Homo sapiens: one gene and its partner. The protein of the gene in region 1 purifies or fractionates together with the protein of each later gene. This does not show direct contact. Each region holds a gene or a part of one and is shown in the gene's direction. Other genes may lie near its edges. The genes, in order: CGB1 and ZNRF2.

What was found.
Region 2: the proteins of CGB1 (region 1) and ZNRF2 purify together in Homo sapiens (affinity purification with mass spectrometry; one large-scale study listed by BioGRID and IntAct). This does not show direct contact.

The regions. Positions count from the first base shown.
Region 1 is NC_000019.10:49,035,039-49,038,529, reverse strand, and holds CGB1 (choriogonadotropin subunit beta variant 1 isoform 1 precursor), read left to right. Parts: upstream 1-1,634; 5' UTR 1,635-1,818; coding exon 1,819-1,827; exon of another isoform or gene 1,828-2,004; intron 2,005-2,226; coding exon 2,227-2,394; intron 2,395-2,629; coding exon 2,630-2,920; 3' UTR 2,921-2,961; downstream 2,962-3,491.
Region 2 is NC_000007.14:30,322,330-30,326,149, forward strand, and holds part of ZNRF2 (E3 ubiquitin-protein ligase ZNRF2), read left to right. Parts: intron 1-1,312; coding exon 1,313-1,408; intron 1,409-3,820. UniProt on the Homo sapiens protein: E3 ubiquitin-protein ligase that plays a role in the establishment and maintenance of neuronal transmission and plasticity. Ubiquitinates the Na(+)/K(+) ATPase alpha-1 subunit/ATP1A1 and thereby influences its endocytosis and/or degradation.

The DNA.
Region 1 (3,491 bases):
ATTGGCACTGCCTGTGTCTGCACACTCCTCAGCCGGACTGGCCGGGCCTGAGACTTATACCCAGGAACTGGTCAGGCAGAAAAAGAACAGAGCTGGATGCTGAGAGACCTCAGGGTTGGCCCAGCTGCTCTACGGACGGACCCCAGTTGGGGAACTCATCAAATCATCGCAAAATCTCAACTGTCTGAATTTGAGCTCAATCTCTGTAGGATGGGTGCAACAATGTGGGGTTTTGAAGGTTGAATAGGAACTCTCCCGGGGGAACTTGAGGGTAATCATGATGATGATGATAATAATAATAGCCATTATTTACTGAGTGTTTACTCTTTCGTAGCCCTAATACATAACTCCTCGGATCAACTCTCATGGATTTGATCATTGGTGACCTTTGGTGTTAAGTTGCTGACTGCTCAGTCACAGAGGACACCACCTTGCTCATCCTGGGGAGTGGGAGGGCACATTTCACGATGTGCATGGGGGAGGAGAGAAACTGGAACATGCAAGCAGATGGCCAGGGGACCTTGAGGACATGGTCTACAGAAGGCCTTTAAGTATCTGGGAGCTGGGGTTCAAATGAGAAATCTTACTTGGTGAGAGCAGGCAGGGGTTGGCTTAGAATATTCTGTTTTGAGATAAAGAGCTACCGATCACACGGGGAGTATAAGCAAGGTTCAATGAGAAGTGATCAGGATGCTGGAGAGTTCAGCCCTGGGCGGGGAGCTCAAGTCAGGTTTCTAGCCCTCTTCCCTGTGCCATCCTATACCCTACATTGGGAAAGAAACAGACCTTAAAATTGTCCAGCTTGATGGCATCGCGGGGAAGGGACTAAGTCCAGATAATGTCCTCCGAGGCTGCGGCCTCGGGGGCAGGACACACCTCCTGCGGGCCTATTCAATAATCAGTTAAATCACCCGAAGCACACGCATTTCCGGGGACCGCTCCGGGCATCCTGGCTTGAGGGTAGAGTGGGCAGAGGTCCCTAAGGGAGAGGTGGGGCTCGGGCTGAATCCCTCGTTGGCGGCACCAGGGTCAAGTGGCTAACCTGGCAGCACAGTCACGGGGAGGCCCTCTCTCATTGGGCAGAAACTAAGTCCGAAGCCGCGCCCCTCCTGGGCGAGGAGGTTCCACCTCCTAGGTTCCTGTGATTCTCCTGCCTCAGCCCGAGTAGTGGGACATCCCACTTGCTCCCGCCATTCTGTTTACCACAGGTGACGACCGCCATGGCTGACAGGCAGGGAGGTCCCCCGAGGACCGAGCAAGGCTCGGTATCCCAAAAAAAAAAAAAAAGATACATTGAAGTAATTTAAAAACACTTAGGAAGATGTCATTTCTTCCTATCAAGGCGTCCTCCCTTTATGTTTTGTTGTTATATAGGGAACGATAAAAAAATTTTTTTTTTTTTTCCTACCAATGGGGCCCAGGTTGACCTCGAACTCCAGTCCCTCACACCCTCGCCTAGCCTTGAGAGCCCGAGGGCAGGCTCAATCGGCCGGAGCCACAATGGCTCCGGTTGTCGGGCCCATCCTTTCTTCCCTTTGATCTTACGCAGGGTGATGGAGCCAATCACAAGAGGCTCATCCCTGACGTCACCCAGTCCCCAGGGCCAGTGAGGGCCCTGCGTTCCGTGGCGCCCCCTGGAGGGAGGAAGGGGAACTGCATCTGAGAGAGAGCAGCCAATTGGGTCCGCTGACTCTGGCCAGGTTCCCGTGCCGCGTCCAACACCCCTCACTCCCTGTCTCACTCCCCCACGGAGACTCAATTTACTTTCCATGTCCACATTCCCAGTGCTTGCGGAAGATATCCCGCTAAGAGAGAGACATGTCAAAGGTAGGGTAGATCCACATTTCCGGGCACCAAAGATGGAGATGTTCCAGGAAAGACTGCAGGGCCCCTGGGCACCTTCCACCTCCTTCCAGGCCATCACTGGCATGAGAAGGGGCAGACCCGTGTGAGCTGTGGAAGGAGGCCTCTTTCTGGAGGAGCGTGACCCCCAGTAAGCTTCAGGTGGGTCAGTTCCTGAGGGTGCGGATCTGAAATGTTGGGGTATCTCAGGTCCTCTGGGCTGTGGGGTGGGCTCTGAAAGGCAGGTGTCCGGGTGGTGGGTCCTGAATAGAAGATGCCGGGAAGGGTCTCTGGGTCTTTGTGGGTGGTGTACCATGCGGGATGGGAAGGCCAGGACTGGGGGCTGCAGTCTCAGACCCGGGTGAAGCAGTGTCCTTGCCCCAGAGGCTGCTGCTGTTGCTGCTGCTGAGCATGGGCGGGACATGGGCATCCAAGGAGCCGCTTCGGCCACGGTGCCGCCCCATCAATGCCACCCTGGCTGTGGAGAAGGAGGGCTGCCCCGTGTGCATCACCGTCAACACCACCATCTGTGCCGGCTACTGCCCCACCATGGTGAGCTGCCCGGGGCCAGGGCAGGTGCTGCCACCTCAGGGCCAGACCCACAGAGGCAGCGGGGGAGGAAGGGTGGTCTGCCTCTCTGGTCAGGGGCTGCGGAATGGGGTGTGGGAGGGCAGGAACAGAGGGCTTCCTGGACCCCTGAGTCTGAGACCTGTGGGGGCAGCTGGGGAGCTCAGCTGAGGCGCTGGCCCCAGGCACATGCTCATTCCCCCACTCACACGGCTTCCAGACCCGCGTGCTGCAGGGGGTCCTGCCGGCCCTGCCTCAGGTGGTGTGCAACTACCGCGATGTGCGCTTCGAGTCCATCCGGCTCCCTGGCTGCCCGCGCGGCGTGAACCCCGTGGTCTCCTACGCCGTGGCTCTCAGCTGTCAATGTGCACTCTGCCGCCGCAGCACCACTGACTGCGGGGGTCCCAAGGACCACCCCTTGACCTGTGATGACCCCCGCTTCCAGGACTCCTCTTCCTCAAAGGCCCCTCCCCCCAGCCTTCCAAGTCCATCCCGTCTCCCGGGGCCCTAGGACACCCCGATCCTCCCACAATAAAGGCTTCTCAATCCGCACTCTGGAGGTGTCTTTCTGTGGGCTCAGGGCAATCACACACACAGGGTGGGTCCAGCTTCCAAACTATTTTATACAGAGTCACAGTACAGAACTCTGGTAGAAAACAGGGTGGACGGCTGGGCGTGGTGGCTCACGCCTGTAATTGTCGGAGGCTGCGGTGGGTGGATCAGCTGAGGTGAGGGGTTCCAGACCAACATGACCAACATGGAGAAACCCCATCTCTACTAAAATTACAAAATATCGTCGGGCGTGGTGGTGCATGCCTATACTCCCAGGTACTTGGGAGGCTTAGGCAGGAGAATCTCTTGATCCTAGGAGGCGGAGGTTGCAGTGAGCCAAGATCCCGCCATTGCACTTCAGCCTGGGCAACAAAAACAAAGCTCCATCTCAAAAATTAGTAATAATAATAATAATAATAATAATAATAATATAATTAAAAACGTTCGTCCAGGCGCAGTGGCTCATGCCTGCAATCCCAGCACTTTGGGAGGCCGAGGCAGGTGCATCACCTGAGTTCAGGACTTCGAGA
Region 2 (3,820 bases), on another chromosome or scaffold:
AGCCTCACTCATTTGGTTGCAGTGAGTTTCACATCACAGTGAAGGGAGGACAGTTCCTGTGAGAACACATGTGTTGGAACTAGAGAGCTGCCAAAACGTCTCTTTCACCACCCATCTTATTAGTTGTCTCTCACAGTGCTTCTGTTCCTGTCTACACTCTAGCTTCATGTGGCCTTCTTTCTTGTGCTTGCCTATAGTTTCTGTTCTCTCGTAAGTTCAGCTTACACCTGAGCCGTCATGGACACCACTGTCTCTCTTTTACTTACTTTTGACCTTTCTGCTTAAGCTCTTTACTGCTGGCCAATATAGTCTCTCACTGTTTCTTAATCATATTTCCAAAAAAAAAAAAAATTGATTGGCCTATGCCATCTTTTTGTTCCACTTCTGATTTGTGCCTAGCCAAACTATAAGTTGGCTATCTGGGTTCAGGTTTCCAAACAGCTTAGTGGTGTCAGGGGAGGGAGCAGTAGGACAGCAGGGGAACATGGTATATCTGAGGACTGTCTTAGCAGCAAGAAGGCAGGGATGGGACACTTCACCTTGGTAAGTGAGGGGGCAGAACAGAGCTGAATACATCAAATAGTCCCTATTTTATTATGCTAGTTTATTTTTAATGGAGTACTTCAGGCAAATACTTAGTAGTGCAGATTGAATAATGTAGGAAACTAGCTAATTTTTAAGTGTCAAAAATTGACTGCAAAAACCTGTACCCCGATCTGATGCTAGTTTCTGTTTTCATTATGACTTCAGTGCCATGGTGTGGCAGAAAGACCATTAAAGTAGAAGTCAGGAGTCTTAGATTCTAGACCTGTTTTTGCTGTTCTGAAAGGCTTCACGTTCTGCATCAGATAAAATTTTAAGGTTATTGAGGTAGAATAGTGTCTAAGGTGCTGTTTAGCTATAAAACTTGTGACTCACAGTGTACTATACCAAGTTGGTAAAGGTAATTTCCACAAGAGTAGTCAGATTACAAAGCTTGTAATAACATGAAATCATGAGTACAGGTTAATGTAAAAAATTAAAAACGAGAATACCTGGACCAGTACATCAGAGAGAGATACAGGAGTTTGTAGTGGACTGCATCCCTCTCATTTTAACTTGTTTTGTTTGATGAGGAGATCATCTTCATAAACTGATACAAAAGTCAGATATTATAATCACAAAATTTTCCTGACTTGAGTTGCACATAAACAGTGTAATGCAGTAAGTGTAATATTGAAGTTTCAAACGCTTTTTGATTTTCCATGCTTTTTAAAAGCCATAGCTGGATATTCAGAATAGTTAAGTAACTTGAGTTTCTTTTGTTTTTTAGGATTTAAGTGCCCTGTATGCTCAAAATTTGTATCCTCAGATGAAATGGATTTGCATCTTGTAATGTGTTTAACAAAGCCACGAATAACCTATAATGGTAAGTCCAATGGTTTAAAATAATATTTTAAGTTAGAATTAACTTACATTTTATGAATTTCATGTTTCAAGTATAATTTAAAAGGAGGGAAGGACATTGTTTTCTCTATTTTTACTAGTGCATTAATGCAGTGGTTCTCAAATTCTGTGATCTCAAGACTTCTTTACACTTCAAAAAATTACTGAGGACTTCAAAGAGTTTTTCTTTACTTGGGTTATATCTATCCATATTTGTCATAAATTAAAACAGAATTTATAATTTTTAATTTATTTTGTTAAACATAAATATAATTATGTTGACAACTTTTAAATGAAAAGTAAATTTTCTAAGACAAAATATTTAGTGACAAGAGTGGCATTTTCAGGATTTTTACAAACTCTTTAATATCAGGCTTCATGACAAGGAATTCTCACATCTGCTTCTTCATTCAGTTTATTGTGATATGGCACGTCTTGTGTCCTCTGGAAAACTCTGCTGCTATACTGGAGAGAATGGGAATGAAAAAGGCAGATATGGCCAGGCACAGTGGCTCACACCTGTAATCCCAGCACTTTGGGAGGCCGAGGTAGGCAGATCACCTGAGATCCCAAGTTTGAGACCAGCCTGGCCAACATGGTGAAACCCCATCTCTACTAAAAGAAAAAAAAAAAGAAAAAAAAAAATTAGCTGGGTGTGGTGGTGCACACCTGAAATCCTAGCTACTCGGGAGGCTGAGGCAGGAGAATCGCTTGAACCCAGGAGGCGAAAGTTGTAGTGAGCCGAGATTGTGCCACTGCACTCCAGCCTTGGAGACAGAGTGAGACTCTGTCTCAAAAAAAAAAAGAAAAAAAAACAAAAACAAACAAACAAAAAAACAGATACTTAGTGTTACCATGAAAATAGTTTTTACTTTGTTAATCTAAAAGGATTTCAAAGGCTCTTCCACTTCTCCTACTGTACAAGATTCTTTGGACCACAGTTTGAGAACTGCTGCATTGAAATAAAATCTTTTGGGTTAAGCCTAAGTAAAATGTAATGTTCATAATGGCCATTTTCAAAAGTAAGTAAGCATGGTTGAAATTGCAACTTTTTTCTTTTTGTTTAAGAGTATAGAGTAAATGAAGGGAACATATATGAGGAGTAGGGAGAATAAAAGTTTATTCAATAGTAAATAGATGCCTAATGGGAGAAAAAAGTCATTAAGAGAAACCCAAAACTCTACCTATGCAGTGCATATGTGTCTCTGTCTTTCCTCCCATATACAAATTTAGTCTGTGAGCTCTGGAGCGAACTGGTATTTTTTTAGGTCTGGTGTTTTAGACTGTACCATTCTTTCCTGACCAAAATCTCTAGATATTCCAAAACCTAGGAAAGATTTTAAATGTAGCCTTGGCATACTTTGGAATAGACTTGGGGGGGAAAAATCAAGTAGTTCTGTCCTAACCAATGAATAGAATAAAATGAAGGAAAAATGAAAGTTGTTTTCAAAATTTTATAAAGAAACAGACTTCAAAAGCTTAAGAGAAATTTCATTTTTTTTAAATATAAATTTTGGCCTGAAATAAAATGTGTAGAAAGGGTACCAGTAAACACTATAGCCAATTGAAAGATTGGCTAAATTCAACATATATTTTGAGCATCAATTATGTGCGAGGTACTGTGTTAGGAATTAGAGATATAGCAGTGAATGAACAGAAATGGAGCTTACAGCCTACTAATAGTAATAGTCACTGATTTCTTTGAGCTAAGAATTATTGGTTAAATAAAAAGGTTCTATGAAAAACTTAGTAGATATAGCAGCACTTATCTGAGCTTTCTCCTCAGGTAACAAAAATGTTGGGAGGGGTAGAATTTAACATTGAAATGAGCATATTACTTTTGGTAGTGTTTTGCAAGTTGATCTAAGAATCAGTCTCTCAATTCTTCCCTTTCCTTCACTTTTTCTAGTATGGTGGTGCTTCAGCCACCCTATTACAGGGTTGACAATAGAGCACTTTTTGCCATTCATTTGCTGATGAAATGTGAAAGTGGTTTTAAGCAGTTACTTGGCATAATAAATGTATTTGTTGATTATATCCTAACCTTTTTGCATTATGAAATTGAATTGGCTACTTTGCATTATCTACTTCAAGTTTAGTTATTTAAGAAATAGAAAGTGTTCTCATTCAAAATTTGTGACTAAAAGTATATGGGTTTGTTTTTCATACCTGCTCCACTATCTTATATTCTATAATTGTTTATGTTTAATATGAGTGCCTTTAAATATCCATAAATCTTAAAGCTTCTGGCTTTCAATTTGAAAATCACAAATATATTTGACCATATAATAATATATTTACACACAGTCTTAGTATTCTGTATGTTTACTTTTTGTGTAATATATCTAGAATACAGTCTTCTTGTGTATTGTGATATTTAACAATTTTTTTAACT